Regions from separate parts of the Homo sapiens genome. Here region 2 is linked to region 1. The links come from fine-mapping of genetic effects on gene expression. A gene starts in region 1. The other region holds a variant in brackets. All regions are shown on one strand. Distances are from middle to middle.

What was found.
Region 2: its variant is fine-mapped to the expression of SRXN1 in whole blood (TOPMed, PIP 0.98).

Annotation. Positions count from the first base shown.
Region 1 is chr20:651,770-654,678 of GRCh38, forward strand. SRXN1 (sulfiredoxin 1) reads right to left here and starts at 1,431. Exons shown (of 2, transcript NM_080725.3): 1 at 1,207-1,431. The coding sequence starts at 1,416. It overlaps LOC107985423 (a long non-coding RNA gene), which reads left to right and starts at 1,184. Exons shown (of 2, transcript XR_001754452.2): 1 at 1,184-1,705; 2 at 2,020-2,909. RefSeq lists a silencer at 1,309-1,868.
Region 2 is chr20:630,089-632,997 of GRCh38, forward strand. No RefSeq gene overlaps it. Among named protein-coding and RNA genes, the nearest start is that of TCF15, 21 kb to the left of the region's middle. The variant G/A (reference allele first, on the strand shown) is at 1,793.

The DNA of each region.
Region 1 (2,909 bases):
TAGGGATGGTCAGGGAAGATCCTGACACTGAGACAGGAAGACCGAGAAAGAGTGAGAAACGACAAGGCAGAGATAGAAGAGGTTCTCAACGGGAGAAAAAGCCCAGTGGTGGGACAGGGCATGCATGGCAGATCCCTTCCCATCTCAGCCAGGCGCCGTGCTACTATTGTGGCAACAGATAAGATGGGACGAGGTCCTCGCCCTTGTGGAGTGCACGTGAGGTCAGGAAGACAGAAAATAAAATGCAACACAAATAGATGTATAATATAATTTCTGGTGGACATAAGTGGTATCCTGAAAAACATCTCGGGCTAAGGGGAGAGCTAGAGAGGCCAGTGACTCTGACCAAGGGTGATCAAGGAGGCAGAGAGCTGAACCAGGCAGGGGAGCAGGCCCTGTGGTTGTCTGGGGAAGTGGCTCCAGGCAGTGAGGACACTAGTGTAAATACTAGGACTGAAAGTTATCGGGGGTGGCTGTAGAGGTGCTGGGTGGGGCTTAGGGATCTCATGTGCTCACCTTCCAAGGGTCGGGGGAAGGGGACACAACGTTATGTAGGCCTAACCTGACACCTGTTCTTGCGGGGCCCCCAAGTTCCTGCCAGAATCACTCCGGTATTCTTAACACCCTTCCTCAGTGGTGGAGCTGACCCTTGACCTCTCCCACTTCCCATTCAGACAAGGGCCTCCCAGCAGATATGACACACCTAGTCCCACTGTCACTGACTGTCACAGCCATGAGAGCCCACGGCTTATCTCCGGGTAGTGCGGTGGCCATGTGCTGGGCAGTGGGGCCCAGGCTGCCTGGGTGTGAATTCCAGCCGTGTCACTTTTTAAGCGCCTGATCTTAGTCAAGCCGCTGAAATCTTCCCTGCCTCAGTTCTCGTCTGCAAAAGAGCCACTATCTACCTCCTAGGGTTGGCATAGGAAACTGAGGGACTTCCTGCAGTTCCTGGACCACTGCAAGCACTAGCGTTATAAGCGTTATCATCACTACTTTAATTATCTCGCCCAATTCCCTCCTTGCTCAAGTGAGGAAACAGAGGCCCAGAGAGGCCCAGCTACTTGCTCAAGGTCACACAGCAGAGGCTGAGCTCCGGCTGGGCCCGGAACCAGTCCGTCTCGCGTCCATCGCAGCGACCTCCCTCCTCCGGCAACCTCCCTCCTCCGAAGCCCTCCCTCCGGTTGGCTGGACTCCCCGAGGCCTCACCCGGATCGTGTCCACGAGGCTCTGCACCTTGGCGGGGTCCAACACGGACGGCAGCGGCCGGATGAGCACGCTCAGCGGCACGTTGTGCACCGCGGCGATGCGGCCCGAGTGGATGCTGCCGCCCTGCGCGCCGCCGCTCGGCCCGGGCCCCTCGGGCGCCCCCCGACCCGCGCCGGCCCTGCCCAGCGTTCCTCCTGCACGCAGCCCCATCGTCGCCGCCGCCGCGGGACTCGCCGCCTCCCCCCGGCCTTAACTCCGGCCGGGCCATACCATTCCGCGCGGCCGGGGGGGGGGGCCCGTGCCAGGGCAGCGCGCGTTTCTCCCCCGACCCCGCCGCGGTCCGGCCTCGACCCCGCGGTCCCCAGCCCGACTCCGGCTCCGCTCGCCAGGTGCCGCCAGACTCGCGCGGGGCTCAGGCTCTCCACCGGGGGGCGCCTCTCGCCTCCCCTGCGCCGCGCGGCGTCCGGGGAGTGGAAACGCCCGGGCGGGCTGACTCAGGGTGAGTTTGCAGGTCGCGGGGCGGGAGGGGCGCGGGTGACGCACCGGCCGGGCCGACTTAGGCCGCGGGGGCGGGGGCGGGGGAGAGCGCGGCGGACCTGCCCAGCCAGGGTGAGTCGGCAAAGCCCGCGGTGCGCTGCTGCCCCGCTGCTGGGGTTCCTAGCCAGCGAGGTTATGATCCCCACCAGCGGTTCCACTTCCAGTCTGGCGCCGGCTGTGTCTGGAGTCGTTCCGAACATTTTGCACGTGTATTAACGTATCTGAACCTCAAAACAACCCTGCAAGGAAGGTATGACTGTTATTCCCATTTTACAGAAGAGGAGACTGAGACACAGGTTTAAGTGATGTACCCAAGATCACGGAACTAGTAAGTGGCCGAATCCGCGTTCAAATCCAGACGGTCTGGCTCCAGAGTCCGCCTTCTACCCCACCGTTGGCTGCCTTGGTTCAGCAACAGTGACTGTCACACGGAGCCCTCAGGAGTCGCGCTGACAATGGGTGGGCCCTGCCTTCAAGTTCCACACTGTCTGTTTGTGTCATTACAACACTACTGGAAGTAGGTGCAGTTATAGACCCGCTGTTCAAGGTCAGCTGAAATGAAAGTCAGGTCACACGAGTCCAAACTGTGGGGCCACTTAACCACCAACTCCAAGCAGGAAGGTGGACGATCCCAGACTCGGTCGAAGACAAGCATGTCTGGTTTGCTTGTCTTCCTTCTCAACCTGAATGGCACGAACATGGAGAAATGCATACTTACCCTGCCAGCTGGAGAAAACTGGAGACGAAGGAGGGAGCCAGGAGTTTCTACTTTGCCTTCCACCAGTTGCTGACACTTTCTGAACCCCGTCTGTAAAATGAAGTCATGCTGCCCATCACTCAAAGTTGTGTGAATTGAGAGAGTGCTCATAGTGCTCTGTGAATTGCATAACATCCATTTTGCTGTTGAAGATCATTTATTTTGGGTTCTTAGTCTCTCACAAAACCTTAGAACACTGACACCAAGACTCCAGCCTTTCCCTTTCGAAACATAATTCCCGTGCGCACCTAAATGATACTTTATTTCAAGAAGTAGAACTGACACCCACACCTCAGCCCCAGAATTATTCAGAATTAGAGAATTTCATCAAGAGGGAAGTTATCCCTTCTAAAACATCTTCCTCATTACAGGAAGTAAGAATGGCAGGATAACAGTTTCTAGAGTGGAA
Region 2 (2,909 bases), 22 kb before region 1:
AGAAGAAGGAAATATTTAACTGGACTCTCCGGGGCTTAATTATAACAACTGTCTGGCACCTAAGGTCCTTCCCTAGCTGGGCTTGCTGCTTCTCTAATCTCATTTCCCTACGTTTCTCACGGTGCTCCAGTCACTCCAGGCCACACCTGATCCCAGAAACCTACTTGTTCCTACTTTGAGCCTTTGCTTGTGCTGTTTCTTCCATTAAGGGTGCCCTTTTTGCCAGGTGCAGTGGCTCATGCCTATAATCCCAGCACTTTGGGAGGCCGAGGTGGGACAATCACCTGAGGTCAGGAGTTCGAGACCAGCCTGGCCAACATGGTGAAACCCCGTCTCTACTAAAAACACAAAAGTTAGCCAGGCGTGGTGGCAGGTGCTTGTAATCCCAACTACTTGGGCGGCTGAGGTGGGAGGATCGCTTGAACCTGGGAGGCAGAGGTTGCAATGAGCTGAGATCATGTCGCTACACTCCAGCCTGGGCAACAGAGCTAGAGACTCCGTCACAAAAAAAAAAAAAAAAAAAAAAAAAGAGTGCTCCTTTCCCCATTTTAGGAACTCCTACACATCCATCAAAACCTGGCCTAAAGGCCCTCTCCTCAATGGAACCTTTTCCAGCCTTTCACTTCTTGGGGTTCCCACAGCCCTTTACATGTCTCTATTCTGGTTGGCTCACCTGCTAGCCAGTGAGCTCCTGGAGGACAGGGATGGGTCTGGCTCATCTCTTTAACCGCCATGCTGAGCCCAGAGCCTGGTAAATGGTGGGTGCTCTATAAGCTCGTGCCCAGTCACTCACCTTTACAGCTCCAGTGTCTGGCTGACAGTGGGTGCTCAGTACATGTGGTTGGACAGATCAATGAGTGAATATTTGACGGAAGGGTGAATAATGACATCAAGGCTGCATTCCAATAACAGCACAATCCCAGTGCTGAGAAAACAATTCACAGCCCTGGATTCATATCATGGAATTCTGATTCCTAGGCCCCTTTGTTCCCAGAGCTATCCGATGATGCTGAAGAAGAGTCCCTGGGCATCATCTGTTCCAGCTGTGTGACCTTGAGCAAGTTGTTTAACCACCTTGTGCCCCAAGATTCTCATCTGCATAAAGAAGAGAAATAGCTACACCTTCCTCATGGGCTAGTTACAAGGATGAAATTTGATCATATGTGCCAAGCACTTAACACAACACATGAACATCACGGCATTGGCATGTCAGCTATGCCAATGACTCTATTTATACCTGAATTTTTATTTGAAATAATTTCAGACTTACAGAAAGTTTGCAATAATAATACAAAGAATTCCTACATACCATCACCCAGATTCCTTAAATGTTAACATTTTGCATTCTTTGCTTTTTCATTCTCTCTCAGCATATATTTTTGTCCAGTGCCTGAATTGTTGGAAATAAGTTGCAGACATGTTGACTCTTTACCTCTAAGTTAATTATCCCATGTATATTTCTAAAAACAAGAATATTCTCTTACAAAATCGCAGGACAGATAGAAAAATCAGGACACTGATACAATGCTATTGTCTATCTTATAGACCTATTGAAATTTTTTCAGTTCTACTAATGTCCTTTGTAGCAAATAAACAAAAAGATTTCTACCCCCCCACCCCACCCACTCAGTAACCAGTCCAGGACACATGTTGTATTTAATGTTTATGTCTCTTTAGTCTTCTTTTTAGTCTTATCTGGAGCAGTTTCTTTTTTTTGAGACAGAGTCTTGCTCTGTTGCCCAGGCTGGAGTGCAGTGGTGCCACCTCGGCTCACTGCAACCTCTGTCTCCCA[G/A]GTTGAAGTGATTCTCCTGCCTCAGTCTCCCGAGTAGCAGGAATTACAGGCGCCTGCCACCACGTTCAGCTAATTTTTGTATTTTTTTAGTTTTACCACGTTGACCAGGTTGGTCTCGAATTCCTGGCCTCAAGTGATCCACCTGCCTCGGCCTCCCGAAGTGCTGGGATTACAGGCGTGAGCCACTGTACCCAGCGTGGAACAGTTTCTTTGGCTTTTATGGCTGACATTATTTGAAGAGTTTAGGCCAGTTTTTTGTTTTGTTTTGTTTTGGTTTTTGAAGATGGAGTTTCACTCTTATTGCCCAGGCTGGAGTGCAATGGCACCATCTTGGCTCACTGCAACCTCCGCCTCTGGGTTCAAGCGATTCTCCTGCCTCAGCCTCCTGAGTAGCTAGGATTACAGGCGCTCGCCACTATGCCTGGCTAATTTTTTGTATTTTTAGTAGAGACAGGGTTTCACCATGTTGGCCAGGCTGGTCTCGAACTCCTGATCTCAGGTGATCCATCTGCCTCGGCCTCTCAAAGTGCTGGGATTACAGGTGTAAGCCACTGTGCCCAGCCTGGAACAGTTTCTTTGACTTTTATGATCAACATTATTTGAAAAGTTTAGACCAGTTGTTTTGCAGATTGTCCCTCTGTTTGGATTTTTGTGTTATTTCTTTATGCTTGGATTCAGATCAGGCACTTGTGGCAAGAACACCGCATCAGTGACGCTTTGTCCTTCACAGTGCGTCCCATCAGGGGGCCCATGATGCCTGCCGACTTGCCCCACTATTAGCAATGTTCACTGTGATCATTTGGTGAAGGTGGTGTCTGCCAGTTTTCCCTACTGTAAAGTTACCATTTTTCTCTTTGTAATTAACGAATACCTTATAGGAAGATACACTGATACTATGTAAATATTCTGTTTCTCTTTATATTTCCTGCCCATATATTTCCTAGCAGGATGATCTATTTTGCAATAGATGCAATTATTATTTGATAAAGGAATACATAAACATGGACCAATATTCCAACAGTATAAAAGAGTGTAAGGCAAATCTCCCACCCACTCCGTCCCCAGCCACCCCGATCCTCTCCCCAAGCCATCCCTAGTCTCACTGTTTCTTGTGTCC